2 separate regions of the Homo sapiens genome follow, and region 1 is linked to region 2. Evidence: fine-mapped expression QTL. A gene starts in region 2. The other region holds a variant in brackets. All regions are shown on one strand. Distances are from middle to middle.

The links. PIP is the estimated chance that this variant, and not a neighbour inherited with it, causes the effect. A credible set is the group of variants that fine-mapping cannot tell apart.
Region 1: its variant is the best candidate, but not a certain one, in a credible set for the expression of RB1CC1 in whole blood (INTERVAL, PIP 0.80).

Annotation. Positions count from the first base shown.
Region 1 is chr8:52,605,343-52,613,685 of GRCh38, reverse strand. No RefSeq gene overlaps it. Among named protein-coding and RNA genes, the nearest start is that of ALKAL1, 44 kb to the right of the region's middle. The variant C/A (reference allele first, on the strand shown) is at 3,717.
Region 2 is chr8:52,709,379-52,717,721 of GRCh38, reverse strand. It overlaps RB1CC1 (RB1 inducible coiled-coil 1), which reads left to right and starts at 3,287. Exons shown (of 24, transcript NM_014781.5): 1 at 3,287-3,647. RefSeq lists enhancers at 2,723-2,772, 2,793-3,102 and silencers at 3,163-3,332, 3,363-3,832.

The sequences.
Region 1 (8,343 bases), 100 kb after region 2:
TACTGCACCTCGCCCAAGCTTATCAGTAGGTCCATATCATCGGTGTCAGTAGTTGAACCTCAAAAATGCTTGAGTCGAACATAGCCGTCATTATTTATTTGGTAAATATTTTAAGCTTAGACATCTCCAGAACCACTTTCCTCCAGAAAATTCCAGTGTTTTATGCAGCTCTTGCTGCCTAGAATTGTAGGTATGATACAATGTCACATTCTGACAAGGTGCAGAACACTTTTGGTTTATAGACCTGGGTTGAAACCCCGATTCTAAAGGAAATTACTGGTTAGCCTATGCAACTTAGTTTTTTAGCTTTAATTTCCCTATCTATAAGAAATAATCTTCACAACTTACTGTGATGTTCACAATGAGAGGAAGTTAAGTAAAAGTATTTTTGCATATTGAAAAGTGCTGTAGAAATATTTATATATTCCTAGAAAGATTTCAAAAAGCTTCCACATACTTTCAAAACACTGATGAGAAGTTGCAGGGTGCCTTCCTAGGCTTCGATGTCAATACTGCTGTTATCTTTCTTTACAAAAAAAAAAAAGGCGTGTAAGCTCTCCACCCTATCTCACCCCATCCCCAAATCCCATAAAAAGTTGCTCAGACATGGCAGAAGACACCTGTGTATTTAAGAAAGCACTAAAATGCATTTCTACTCTCTTCCCTCTGTTTTTCTTTGGGATAAAGGTTGTATTTATCTTTTAAAAATGAAAAGTGGGCCAGATGTGGTGGCTCGCGCCTGCAGTCCCAGCACTTTGGGAGGCTGAGGGAGGAGGATTGCTTGAGCCCAGGAGTGTGAGACCAGCCTGGGCAAAATAAACACCATGTCTACCAAAAACAAAAAATTAGACAGGCATGGTGGCATGTGCCTGTGATCCCAAGCTACTCAGTAGGCTGAGGTGGGAGGATCACTTGAGGTGGGAAAATTGCTCAAGCCAAGGAGGTGGAGGCCGCAGTGAGCCGTGAGCGATCACACCACTGCACTCCATCCTTGGCTACAGAATGAGATCGTGTCTCAAAACAAAACAAAAACAACAAATAAAAGCTTTTACAAATAAAATATTTAACTTTTCATCCTAAAATTAATGGTGGTTTAGGCTGGGCGTGGTGGCTAATGCCCATAATCCCAGGACTTTGGAATGCCGAGGCAGGCAGATCACCTGAGGTCAGGAGTTCAAGACCAGCCTGACCAACATGGTGAAACCCCATCTCTACTAAAAATATAAAAATTAGCTCGATATGGTGCTGCATGCCTGTAATCCCAGCTACTTGGGAGGCTGAGGCAGGAGAATTGCTCGAACTTGGGAGGTGGAGGCTGCAGTGAGCTGAGATCATGCCACTGCACTCCAGCCTGGGTGACAGAGCAAGACTCCATCTCAAAAAAGTAAAATTAAATTAATGGTGGTTAGCAACATCTAAAGATTATTTAGTATCCACATTTTGTGTTTGAAAATAATTTTAACAAATATATTTTCAAATACTTTAATCTTTGTTTTAATTTAAATCATTCATTCCAGGCGCAGTGGCTCACGTCTATAATCCCAGCACTTTGGGAGGTGGAGGCAGGCAAATCACTTGAAGTCAGGAGTTCAAGACCAGCCTGGCCAACATGGTGAAACCCCATCTCTACTAAAAATACAAAAATTATCTGGGCATGGTCGTGGGCACCTGTAATCCCAGCTACTTGGGAGGCTAAGGCAGGAAAATTGCTTGTACCCAGGAGGCAGAGGCTGCAGTGAGCTGAGATTGCGCCACTGCACTCCAGCCTGGGTGACAGAGGGAGACTCCATCTCAAAAATAAATAAATTAATTTTAAAAATAATAATTTAAATCATTCACTGGGAACAATCTTTTTTATTTTCACAGTTCAATTTTGCTTTTTTCTAAAACTAGTTGTTAAGGAAAACACAACATATATGAAATATAGAGGTTTTTCTCCCCCATAGGAATTAAAGATTTTACAGAACTAACCTTAAAGCACACACTTATCTTTTTCTTTCCAAATGAGAGAAGTTCTTTAAACTGTGAGGATTACTTCTTAAAATTTAAATGAGCCCTTTTTGGATTGTTACAGAAGTGCCTCATAAACCTCATAAACATTTCTTTTCTTTTTTCTTTTTTTTTTCGTTGAGATGGAGTTTTGCTCTTGTTGCCCAGGCTAGAGTGCAGTGGTGCGATCTCAGCTCACCACAACCTCTGCCTCCCAGGTTAAAGCGATTCTCCTGCCTCAGCCTCCCCAGTAGCTGGGATTACAGGCGTGCACCATTATGCCCGGCTAATTTTGTATTTTTAGTAGAGATAGGGTTTCTCCATGTTGGTCAGGCTGGTCTCCGACTCCCAACCTCAGGTGATCTGCCTGCCTAGGCCTCCCAAAGTGCTGGGATTACAGGCGTGAGCCACCGTGCCCAGCAACATTTCTTGAGGTAGTTTACATGCTTCAAAAATAACTGAACTGAGAAAGTGATTAGCTTTGTCACTTCTTCCACATCTATCTCCTTTAGCTGTATTTGGCTTATCTTAAAAACTAAGATCTTCACAGAAAGATCTCAGGCAAAACTGAGGTTCCTTTTTGGTCTTTACTTTGCGTATGTCATGGATGCAACAAACCGTAGACTTTCCACAGTGATAATTAGCCCAAATTGGCTTCTAATGAACAATGCCCAGTTACTTTCAGTTTATCCTAGCAGAACCTTCTTTGCCTAAACTATTGACATAGATGTCATTTACTCAGCTGCTCTCTATCAGTGTTTGTTAGGTGGAACCTTATAAGGTCTCATCTAACATTTCAAGGAAGCAAGAGTGAGTCTAGGGAAAAGAGAAATCCATAATTTTACAATTAAAGCTGCACTTGTTGCTTAATGTATTTGTCCTTATGGGAGCCAGGTGTATTCTGAGATGGACATTAGAACTTTTCAGAAGACATTAAGAGTTCAGTGACCAAGTACTTGTAGAGAATTGAATTAGGTATATTAGTTACACCAGATGCATCAGGGAAACTGATTAATAATTAAATCAGGAGAGTTCTTTTTTTTTTTTTTTTCTTTTTTCTTGAAACAGTCTTGCTCTGTCACCCGGGCTGGAATGCAGTGGCACAATCTTGGCTCACTGCAACCTCCACCTCCTGGGTTCAAGTGATTCTCCTGCCTCAGTCTCCCGAGTAGCTGGGACTGCAGGCGCACACCACCACACCTGGCTAATTTTTTGTATTTTTAGTAGAGATGGGGTTTCACCATGTTAGCCAGGATGGTCTCGATCTCCTGACCTCGTTATCTGCCCACCTCGGCCTCCCAAAGTGCTGGGATTACAGGCGTGAGCCACCACGCCTGGCCAGGAGAGTTCTTTTTATTTGTCAGTTTATAAAGAATATATGGAATCAGTTCATAAAAAATCACAGCCAAAGTGTATATAAATATTTCTTCTTGTAGCTCATGTTTTCATTCACAAGCAGGAGCCAAAAATGTACTCTCCTAATTAAAAGATAATTTTAAATATTGTCATTGCAATAGAGATTGCATAACTATAATTGAATGCTAACATTAAAGTGATGTAATTTTTTCTTTATGCATTAAAAAATAGGAAAAGTTAAAGTTCTAGATTATAGCAGTATCTGATATTTCTCTCAGATCTCAAAACATTTGTAGGATATTTCTAGATGTTCGTATATACTGTCATGAATATAGAAAATGAATTTGAACTGTGAAAATGCAAAATAAAGT[C/A]TTCTTAGTACTTGTATAATTTCGCTTCCCTTTCTGTGTATTGGATTAAGCAACATATTAAATTTTATATTATTAAACTGTATAAGAAAAATACAACAGAATTGATGGAAAAAAATTCTAGGGTTGCCACTGTCAGTGCATGTTCTGGAGCTCACTGCTATCTTTTTCCTTATAAAGAGATGGAAAGTAAGTCAGGGAAAAGAATCAAAAGAACTCTATCAAGACAAAACAATTCATGTCGCAATCTAAAAATAGCATTTTGGGAAACTACTATCCAGTACTTTAAATCCATCCTCATTTGTGCTCACAAAGTAAAGTGGAAAACAGAGTACAGAAATAGACCCACATATATATGGTCTCCTGATTTATTACCAAGGCACCAGTGCAATTCAGTAGGAAAAGAAAAGTGTTCTTGATAAAAGGTGCTAGGTGAAAAATAAATGAACCTTCTCCTTGACTGCATGCTATCCGCAAAGTTTATTTAAGACACAAAAATTTATTTGGAATGGATCACAGAACTAAATGGGAAAGATACAACAATAAAACTTTTGGAAGAAAACATAGACAAATACCTTCTTTTCCCTGGGAAGAAAAAAATTCTTAAACAGGAAAATTTTAAAAATATAAAAGAAAATATTGATACATTGGACTAGATGAAAACTAAGAACTTCTGTTCATCAAAAGACCCCATTAAGAGAGTGAAAAGGCAAGTCCTAGACTCAAGACATATGCAATATATGGATCCAACAAAAGATTAGTATCCAGAACATATAAATAACTCCCATGAATCAATAAGAAAAAGACAAATAGGTGAATTTTAGAAATGGGCAAAACTGGGTGTTGAATGGATTCTTCATAAAAGAGGATACCAAATGACCAGTTATAATGACTATTTTTAATAAGTGCTCAACATCATTAGTCATCAGGACAATGCAAATAAAAACTGCAATGTGGTACCACTGCACACCCACTAGAATGCTTCAAATTCAAAAGACCAACAATAACAACTGTTGGCAAAGATTCTTGGGAGGCAGTTGGAATTCTCATATACTACAGATGGGAAGTAATTTGAAAAATGTGACAGTATGTTTCACAACTAAATGTAATCCTGCACTCTGACATGGCAATCTCACTTAAATATTTACCCAAAAGTAATGAGTACATATGTTCACCAAAAGCCATGTAAAATAATGTTTGTAGATAAAACCTGGAAACAACCCAAATGCTTTTCAATAAAAGAATGCATAAATCTATTGTGGTATACTCACACAGCAGAGTATTATGTAGCAGTTTAAAAGAATGAATTATTGCTGGGTGTGGTGGTGCATGCCTGTAGTCCCAGCTACTCAGGAGACTGAGGTGGGAAGATCCCTTAGGACCAGGAGTATGAGGCCAGTCTGGGCAACATAGCAACCCTGTCTTTAAGTGAATGAATGAACTGTTGGTACACATGACATGAAGTAATTTCACAGACATAATAATGAGTTAAAGATAACAGATACAAATGATTACATATTGAATTACTTCATTTATATGAAGTTCAAGTACAGACAAATGAACTGTGATGACATAAGTCCATTTTTTAGGAAGGGGCATGAGAGGGATTTTTTAGATGCCAGATATAATGTACATTTTCATCAGAGTAGGGTTAACTGTGCGTATTCACAGACTTCATATGTGTGTTCCACCTCATTCCTTTTTTAAAAAGAACTAAAATGGTTGATTTATATATTCTCACATATATATATGGGTCTCGATACATACATATATATGCATATATGTATGCTTTATATTTTCTTACATATACATATATGGGTCTCAATACATACATATATATGCATATATATATATATATATATATATATATATATATGTATGTATGTATATGCTTTATTTTCCCATAAGTGTCTATGGCTTCATTTATTTCTATCCATTCCATGCTTTCCCTTAAATGAAGTCTTAGCAAGCTCCTAAGTCCCTTTTGTTTCTGTTGACACTGTTCAGATTAGCATTGTTCAGAATTTTAGCTCCAAATTATCTTAACCACCTATTTCTTTCCTAGAATTTCAAAAATTGAGTTGAGTCAGTGACCGAGCAAGAGCACCATCATCTTGGACAAACACCATCACTTTAAGTTCCAGCTCCCTTTCTAGCATCATGTATTTTAAGGTAATCACTTCTCTTCTAACTACAAGCAGCCAGAAAGAGCAGGCAGTAAAACACAGATAAGACAGCTTGGGCACAGAGGGAGGTGAGGGTAAAGTCTTTTGGGTAACTGCCAAACTTCACCCTCATACAATGGGCCCCAGTAAAACAGTGGGCCTTAATAAGCACATTCCTTTCCCTTCAGGTGCACTGAAATAGGGAAGCTAAAAGCAGACTCAGGGGATATGCCTGCAGCTGCGGAAAGATGAATGGGAACAGACACACAACTCTCCCTCCCAGATAAGCACCACAAAGAGATACAGAAACAGTCCAAGTGTCTGATAAACTCTCTACCCTGAATCCTTAAAAACTCTCTGACCTAACTCTGCCAGACACCCCTCTCAGGTTTGTTTTCTCTAAAATAAGCCCATCTTGACTGGCAAGCCATCCTTTGTGTTTGTTTCCTCTTTCTTTAATTCTTATAGTCAGGACCTAGATTAACCATGTTTTTCAACCTGGAAATAAAATCAATCTCTCTCTCTCTCTCTCTCTCTCTCTCTCTCTCTCTCTCTCTATCTGTGCGTGTGTGTGTGTGTGTGTTTTATTTATAAGGACACTGAAGTGTAGAGAGGTTAATGAACTAGCCCAGGGTCAGGACCATGAACTTTATTAATTTTTCAGGAATTCAACTATTACAGACAAATAGAAATTACCTTGTCTCAAACTCCTACTCCTCACTTCCCATTTTTGACAACAAGCGGTATTATTCTCCCTTTAACCCAGATGTAAAATCTATTTTATTCACAACAGATTTACTTTTAAGTATCTACTATGAAAGGAAAGGGGTATAGAGTTGAGAGGCTGTAGCCCCAATCCTCTACCCCAGTTGATTTTGACTCTTCTCATTCCAAAGTGGCCACTACCTTCCCTTTAGTTTCCCAAAATCAAACGTGTTAAGCATCAGATTGGACCACTACTTTAAGGTATTTGCTAAACCTGAAGCTGCCTTAGAATTTTTTTTTTTTTTTTTTTTTTTTTACTTACTGTCTGACTTTGCATGTGTTTGTCTAGAATTCAGCATCCTGTCTTTATGCCTGTCGCATTAAGCTATGAGTCCAGGAAGGTAAGAGCAGCAGCTGGCAAAGGTGCCCAAAACAAGTGTATTTTATTTTGGAAACATTCTTTGTGTCTAGCCTAAATCTATCCTGATGCAGTTTCAGACAACAGAACCCTTTGTCTTTGTCTACTCACAGGATAAATATGGTAGAAAAGGGGAATTCAAAGAAAGGAAATGGGGAAAATATGACACTTTGCAAAGGTGACATTTTAAAAATATGTACATTGCTGCAATCATTAACAGCACCCCGAGAAAAGATTCAGTGCTCAGAACAAATGATCCACCCTTTTAAAAAATTAAATGATGTAGCTTATAGCCTAGGAGGTATTTGCATGAAAAAGAGAAAGGCAGTTTTATCTTTGTGGATGGTGAAAGGATGATAACAGGATGATTTATTTTGAGTTTTTAAAGCCAGCCCCTGCCAATCTGCCTGGTAGAACCCCTGAAGCATTATTCAGTGCACACCACCATCAGGGCATTCACTTCTTCCCGTGACAACAGGTCCGCAGCTGTCTCTGCCTAGGGGCTGAAACCATCATTTTAGACTGCAAGACCATTAAAAGAGGGGGGAAGCTGAGTCCACTGAATCCTTTTCATAAAGCATCAGAGGAATGAGACCAACTTAGCCAAATCAGCACACCTTATAAAATTAGTCAAGGGAGACAACTGCATTGCTTCTAAAAAAAAAAAAATCAATTTAGCTCCTCATCACATCAATACCCCAAAATAATATCCAGATGAACTGAAGCTACAAATTGCAGACAACATTAAAAAACAAGAATTCTAGGATTAAATACTGTAAATTAAAAACAGGTGGATATTTCCACACACAAATGAAAAATTCTCTTTAGTACATACCATAATGAAAATGAAATGCCCAACATTGCACAAAGAAATATTATTTCTACAAATATGAGAAAGGCTTACTATTTTATACAATTAAAAATAAACACAAATGAACAAGAAAATCACTACAATCAATAGATAAATAGGTCAAATTATCTCAAAAGATGCCACGAAATTTTGAGTTGGAACCTGTTTTCTTTAACTTTAGAAGAGAATGTATCAAAAGAGAAAGCAGAAACCAAAAATTGTGTTGCTCATTGGTCAAAATCACAGACTACTCTCAAAGTCACCTTAATAGTTTAATCCCACCTACTTCTGAGTGGCTTTTGTCTTCTGGGAAAAATTCAATTTTTTTTTTTTTTTTGAGACAGGGTCTTGCTTGGTTGCCCAGGCTGGAGTGCAGTGGTATGATATCGGCTCACTGCAACCTCTCCCTCCAGGGTTGAAGCGATTATCATGCCTCAACCTCCCAAATAGCTGGGATTACAGGCACCCACCACCACCCTTGGCCAATTTTTG
Region 2 (8,343 bases):
TAGGAGGTCAATTCAGGTATAAATTGAGGGCCTGAACAAGTTGTGGGGTACTGTCAAATGTTTGTTGAGTGCATACCATTATATACCAGGTACAGTACATCTTTTAAAAAGGAGCTTATAGTCAGCATGTTAGATGACACTGAAAGATACAATGTGAGAATCTAAAGAAATTACAAGCATGTGGCCAGGTGCTGTGGCTCACTCCTGTAATCCCAGCACTGTGGGGGAGGCTGAAGCGGGTGGATCACTTGAGATCAGGAGTTCGAGACCAGCCTGGCCAACACGGTGAAACCCCATCTAATAAAAGTATGAAAAGTAGCCGGGAGTGGTGGCAAGTGCCTGTAATCCCAGTTACTAGGGAGGCTGAGACAAGAGAATCGTTTGAACCTGGGAGGTAGAGGCTGCGGTGAGCAGAGATGGTGTCACTGCACTCCAGCTTGGGCAACAGAGTGAGACTCTGTCTCAAAACAAACAAACAAACAAACAAACAAACAAACAAGCATGGTAGGGAATGACTCCCAGAGTAGGTGATATTGAAGTTGAGAACTGAAGGAAAAATAGGATTTTAAAGATCTGAACTGATTTGAAGTACTTAGGGTATTTATTGTACATCCTATATAATCCCTCCATACTCCTAAAGAAAACTGTTTTCTTTTGCCCTCACTGTAAATCTACTGAAGCATCTAAAATAGTTATTAAATTTAAAAAAACAATAATGTGATGAGGCCAGAATTAGGTTTCTCTCTTCTGTTCTCTCCCACGGCACATTACCTTTGCATCATTCGCACACTATTATAATTATCTGAAAATTTGGAAGAGGTCCAAAGAATGGACAGATATTTAGGAGCGCCAGGAAGGAAACAGCACAAAAGGGAAGGAGGAGTATAAAAGTTAAATAATTTAAAATGGCGAATGCTTTAGAAAGTTCAAGTAAAATCTTAGTACTGTAATTTACTGTAATTTGGAGGTCCTTGTTAATGATCTGTTTGCAAGTTAAGTAAGAAATGCACAGTAGGCCAAAAATGAGATTGGACTGAGGACTTCCTATCAGAAAGCTTGGTTGAGAAGTGATGCTACAGAATTTTGTTTGTTCTTTTTTTTGTTTTATTAAGGAAGGGAGAATAGAGGGTGTCCAATAGGCAACAAAAGTAACTTTTCAAGACCTACTACCATGGATACATGTATTAGTAACTTATAAACAGTATTTCCTCTAGATATTTGCATATATATAATAGAATTAATGTTAGTACATTTTCACTTATCCCTAGGAAAGAATTACTGATGTTTGTTAAGAGTCTGTTAAGAATATACAAACTCTTAACATTTACACTGGAGGTGTATAAGGTATGAACCAGTCGTTTCTGGTAATTTATTGCAACCTGTGATTAAGAGAGAAGGTTAGGACTGAATTAATTCATTTTCCAAAGAAAAAAGTCAGACAACATTTATAATTTACCAGATTATCACTGGCATAGTTCAGAAATTTTTTTTTATTTTTCAGACAGGGCAACAATCTGTTGTCCAGGCTAGGAGTGCAGTGGTGCCATGATGGTTCACTGCAGCCTCGACCTCCTGGGCTCAACTGATTCTCCCACCTCAGCCTTCTGAGTAACTGGGACCACAGGTGTGCATCACCACGCCCAGCTAATTTTTGTATTTTTTGTAGAGAAGGGGTTTCACTACGTTGCCCAGGCTGGTCTCCAACTCCTGGGCTCAAGCAATCCTCCTGCCTCGGCCTCCCATAAGTGCTGGGATTCCAGGTGTGAGCCACTGCACCGAGCTCCAGCAAGATTTTTACATTCTAAATTGGGTTATATTTGTAATAATGAATGTCACTAATAAGAGGAAGTGCAAGTACCAATACGTTCTTTACAGGCCTCATACTGCAGTTTTTCTTTTCTTTCTTTTTCTTTTCATTCTTGGTCATACTGCCATTTTTCTTAGCCAATTTTCTGGCCAAACTCCTCCTCACCACTTATTTTCTGTGTGCTGATGACTATGCTTTACTACTAAATTTGGCTCTTTTGTCTTGCCAGTTCACACCTTCCCTTAAGGCATAATAACCATTTACTACTTAATTTTCGCTTTTCTCCTCTATCTTGCTGGGGTGGTGTAATAAAATTCCAGCTTAACCAATAAGTAAAATGGCTTGCCAGTGATGATAAAGACCACATTTGTTTGGGATATGTAGCAGCACAAATTTAAAAGTAAATAAATAAAACAAGCCCATCTCAATCCTAACTTACAGATACTGGTCAGTGTGACTGAAAACTGAAATTGTTCATGCTAACCAACGTTTTTCAGTTTCCACCTAACATTTTGTTCAGTTTGGTGCCCTCTTGTGCCTCCTATTTTTACAAACACAACTCAGAATTCCTGATGACTTTAGAGAAGGCACCTCCAAGTTTTCACTCATACCAGATATTCCTGGATATAACAGGAATTTGAGAACTATTATGTAATTATTCTACGTGTAACATCTGCTCATCAGATTTTAATATTCAAGCCTCGTGGCTTCAAGTCATTGCCTGTGACTGATCATCTTCACAAATGCAAGAGTCCCCTGAAACTGTCTCCCAACCATTAGGGTGCTCATGCTAACCCCTAACCCACTAGACCCACTACAAGATTCAGTATTTGTAAAGCTGAAAACGTGGTTGTGGCGTTTACATTTTCATTCCGATTGGCCTAGGCTTCCCTCTCTTCTCTCTTGCATGTTTTCTTGCCTTACCTGGTCTGAGAAATGGTGCCGCCCCACCCTTGCAGAGTTAACAGGGGGACGCTTGCCAGCTGCGTGCAGTCCCGGCGGTCCGGATATGCGGGGAGGTGGCGGCAGGAACGCCTGGGCCAGGCGCTGGTACGTTATCCTGTTACAGACCTTGGCCTAGTCCGCAGGTTGCCCCTGGAGAGGCGACGGGGACACCAGACCCTCGATTGGCTCCGCTCCTCCGCGACAGGCTGAGGGGAACAAGCTCTCTTTCGCCTGGGGACGATCCAGTGTTTGGTGGGTCGACCTTAGTCAGGGCCTAGCTGTCGCAAAGAAGGTCAAATTCACCTTGGGAAAGTACGCACCGGGACGGCAGCTAGCACCATAACAGGCGGCCCCAGCGGAGTCTCCCAGGGTCAGGCCAGGACAGCCAACCTGCCGGCCGGAGAGCCGGAGGCGGGGCCGCCCCCTTCCCGGCAGGCTGCCGACTTCCGGACCTGCGTAGACGCCTCTCTGCGCCTCCAGGCGCGCCCCTCCCCCGGCAGGCCGTTTCCCGGCATGCGCCGCGGAGGAAGAGACGGAGTCGACAATAACAAACCAAGCCGCGGCGGTGTCCGCGGCCCTGCCGAGCCCTCGGCGTTGCCTCAGAATCCCCCAGTCGCCTGGGCCCCTCGGCTCTGACAGGCCGCGGCCTTCTGTCCCCCGGCCCCAGACCCAGAGCCGAGGGGCCTGCTCGCGTCCTTGTCCGCCCGGACCCCTCCCTGCCTCCTAGAGTTCGGGGCCGCGGCGGGCGGGCGCCCGGGACGCCGGCGGTTGTGTCGGCTTAGCGGTGCCGAATGGGCGGTTGGTAACCGCTGCCGAGGACTAGGCGGCGGCGGAAGATGGTGCCGGGGGTCGCTGGCTCTGCTGCTGCCGCCGGCGAAGGAGGAGGCGTTGCCGGGTAAGTGTCGCCGCCGCCCGCGTCCCCTTCCCCCATCTGGCACAGCGGTCGCGCGGCGGGCCCTGGCACGGTGGGCCGGGGTCGCATGGTCCAGGGTTCCGGTCGGCCTGAGCCCGGCCCACGCGCAGGTGTGTGCACGGGAGGGCCCCGGCGCCTCCCGCCCCGGCAGGTGTTGCCCACTGGCCGCTTTCCCGGCGCGACAGCCCCTGTGGAGACAAAAGCGGTTCGAGTCGATGCTCCACTAGGCTGCCGGAGGTGTGGGTCGGACTCGTGCTGCGGGGCTGCCTGCGGCTTCCTCGGCCGGAGCCTTGGGATCCCTCCCTCTGCGCTGCCGCTTAGTACCCGGCCTAGTTGCCGGAGTGGCCGAGGGCGAGGGACGTCCGAACCTCCCAAGACGCATCTTGACTTGTGCTCATCGCTGCCAGGGATCAGCCCTTAATTCTGTGTTGGACTCGAGAAACGGGAGAGTGGAGTTTGGCCGAGGCCGAACGAAGCTCACCGAATGGGAGGAACGGAGAGATGATGTCTTTGTCCCGACCCCAGAGTGCGAGGATCGGTATAAAGTTACTCCTAGGAATGACTCAGCCTGCGCCCGCCCCACGGATAGATTTGGGATGGGTGTGCACGCGGATTTCACAGCTTCCTTGGTAGAAACAAAAATACATTAACCAACAGTAGAAATAGCAGCTTCTGAATGGAATATCTCTATAGTTTCTTCCACCGCCTGGTGGATGTGCTGTGTTTACTGTTTATGGTTTCGTAATCTAGTCGTTTCCATCATGACTCTTTAAAGTGTGGTCATACCTTGAAGTAGTGTAGACTTGGCTGCCAAGGAAGACTCATGTGCTCACTGTTGATAAAGAGTCACGTTACTACGAGACATTCAGCCAGATGGGAATGTTCTCAAGTCTGCTGCAAACATTTAAAGTGTACCTATTTGCTAACTATTTTATTGTGTAGTTTCTTAAGTTTTTGTGTTTTGGTGAAGCTTGTATGATTTATACATAAGTTTGGACAGTTAGCAATTTAGGAAGAGACTTAAGTAGACTTAATTGTGTGTTTAATCAAGAATGTTATTACATTGTGATAGACGATAAAAAGAGGGTCCTTCCACTTCTGATCAGATAAAACTGTGAGAAACCAAGGAACTACTGAGGGAGGTGGCTGATTTTAGTTTTTGGATTATTGGATTTATAAGCAGACCATTGCTAGGAATGTGAAAATATGTTCGCTTTTTATATTTGTTGTAACAGAATATGGCCCTAATGAAGATATTTTCTCAATAACATTCCTGTCATGTCTTTTAATGTTTGTGATTGTGTTCAAAACCTGGATAAAGTTTTATGTCAGGGATGCTTTAGGCACATAATGCTTACGTTGAGAAACCTCTGTTGATGGAAAGTGGATATTGACATAGTTCATATTTTTAAAGTAATTTTATTTAGTCTATTTTGAACTTTTTATGGTAATCAAGATATGATTATTTATGTACCTAATCCTTTATATGTTTGTTATTGGACGACAGGGAAGACAATGAAGCGGTACTTTTGTCCCTGAGTTTTTTTTTTTTTTTTTTTTGGCTCTTGCTGCCAAACACAAGATCAGGATGCATGGCAGATTTACTTTAGCAAATCAAGTTCATAAAGGCAGAAGACACAAGACTTTTGTTTTCGAAATTTTGAACCTAAATTTTGATTATGTTAGCCTGAGAAAAGTTTTTAGACTCTAATATTAACTTAAAATTTTATATCATACATTCAGCAGATATTTGAGCACCTACATGCTTTACTTTGCAGATGTGTATGTCTTATGAATATCTTTTTAAAAGAATGGCTGATAAAATTTTCTCATTCAGGTAATGATATTTTCTGACTCCAGTTACACTTTTCTTTTGTAGTAATACTGGCCTAAGACACTTTGAAAATCTAGCAGTCCCTTTCAACACACTTTCACGATTCTTTTATTATCTTTTTACCACTGTGAGGTTTTTGAACTAGTTACATGAGGAACATAAAAATGTTTAAGTAATTGTTCTTGAGTAGAGACGGGGTTTTACCATGTTGGCCAGGCTGGTCTTGAACTCCTGACCTCAGGTGATCTGCCTGCCTCGGACTCCCAAAGCCCGGCCACTGATTGCCTTTTGAATAAAGGCCCAAGAGAAGTAAGGGGTGTAAGTGTGTGACTCTCGAAAGGAATTTTTGGCAGAAGAAACAGTAAATGGAAAGGCTCTGATATACATGGCATATACCAAGAAAAATGAAGTTACTGAAGCTGGACTGGTATGAGAGAGGCGATAGTAATGGTAGATTGTGGGGCTCTACATATTCAGGTTTGGAAGTCATAGTAAGGAAACTAATGTGCTCTAACTCACAAAGGTCTACAGATGAATTCAAGTAAACCCAGCATGGCTGGAAAGCAGTTGAAGCCAAATTCACTTCATTTATTCCTGAAATGCTAATTGAACCCCTGCAGCATACTCTTTTAGCTTCAGCAATGCAACAGTGAACAAGAAAGACATATCTGTCTATGTATATATATTTATTTATAGGAAATGGGTAACCACTGGAAATTTTCATGGAGGTAAATGACAAACGCAGATTACTTTGAGGATGTAGAGTAGATAAAAGGCTAGCTAAGCCGATTGTATAGTGCTAGGTTGATGAGTTTTTGCTTAACTCACATAGATAAAAGGATGTGAAGATTACTTGTCTCTGATTATTTATTATGGACCAAATCAACTTAATTTGACTGTAAACTGTACCCCCATTGTTTAGGGTCCTGAGAGGATGGCATTTCTTTCTATCCCTTTGTAAAGTTCCGGTTCTGTTGGATTACTTTTTGTAAGTGCAGTACTTGAATGCCTCCAAGTACCCTCTTTCCTTGGCTAATTTGTTTCTGCTTTCATGGCTGTTTAGTGAGTGCTTTGAGGATTGTGGAATAACAATCCTCGCCCATTTTTTTTCATCCATGATTTTTTTCTACCCGTTAGTTTGCTCTTTTGAACTCTCATATTTTATTGGCTTGTAATTGTGCTAGGAGATAAAAATAATTGTGTTCCATTTCCTTTTTTTGTCACTGATTTGAGACTGTCCACTCATTTTTCCTTCACATTCCACACATTATACTTGTTCAGTAACTGTCCAGCATACCTGTTGAAATATTAATTCAATACCATATTATATTACAGTAATATAACGGCTTTTAGTAATTGTTTTACTGCAAATACCAGATTTGGGCAGGCTGGTTTAATAATTTGGTTATATGTTTATAGATAATCTTGGTTTAATAGAATGCAGCTAATTCTACATTTTCTTTTTTTTCCCCATTTTCCCTGTCTTATATAATTCTATATTTGCTATATAGATAATTTTGGTTTTACTGTTAGTTTCCGTTATAAAATAAAACACAACTAGAAAATTTTCACTAAAATCATGCATTTTATGTAGTTTTTATAAACGATAGGGACACCAAAATGTGTAATGCATTTATATGTACTGATACAGAAAGATTTCTGTTATTTTATGCAGTTCAAGCAAAGTCCATAGTAGTATGTAGGGTGTCACCTCATTTTTATAAAACCATATTGCCTGAATATACACATATTTCCTGTACACCTAGGGAAAAAAACCTGAAGGGTGTACTCCAAAGTATTTTTCATTTTTGTTTTAAAAGTATTCCTGTTCTGCTATTTTTACCTCATTTGCTGTCTTTGGGCACTACCTTTCTAAATGCTCGCTTCATTCTTTTGGCGAAGTTGCTTGTCTAGTTTGTAGACAAGGCGTATATTTAGGAAGTCTGAACTTTTATGAAAAAGGTTTTCTTTCAGGGAAATGTGAGGAAAATGCCTGACCTACTCATCTTTCATTCTTTTTCTTGGCAGAGAAGGGGTAGGATCAGATTAGAATACATCTGATTTGGGGAGACTGATGCCCAGTTTTCAGTCCCTGGGCAACCTAGACACTCCGTTTGTGGTGGACATTATCTCCATTGATGCAGTAGCCCGTGACCCCTCAATGAGGGAGAATTGCTAATAATTGCAGTTTACAGAATTAGAGATCAGGCAAAATTATTTCCAATCATCTTTTCTCTGAAGCTTTTAGTCCACTTTAGGGTTATCTGAGTCTCATGTGTTCTATTCAGCTGGAAAGCATCTTGAAGATATTTGTATTCCAGGCACCTAGCAGTGTCTGGCTTATGTTTAGATGCCCCCAAAATAGTGGATGAATAATGAATGTGTCCAGTTTTGAAGGTCAGAGATTGTCATTGGGGTGTCCCCCTTTCACCTTATCATATAAGGAAGCGAATTCTGTTTTGTTTGTTTGTTTTTGTTTTTTAAGGCAGAGTCTTACTTTGTCGCCCAGGCAGGCGACAGGCAATGGTGTGATCTAGGCTCACTACAACCACTGCCTCGTGGGCTCAGATGATCCTCCCACTTCAGCCTCCCAGTAGGTGGGATTACAGGCATGCACTACCACTGCCAACTAATTCTTGTATTCTTAGTAGAGACGGGGTTTCACCATGTTTCCCAGGCTGGTCTTGAACTCCTGGCCTGAAGTGAGCCACCCACCTCGGCCTCCCAAAGTGCTGGGATTACAGGCAGGAGCCACTGTGTCTGGCCTAATTCTAAGTTTTGACTGTATTAGAATAGTTGACAGTAAGGCTGGGATAATTGACTTTATCATCATGATAATCTCTC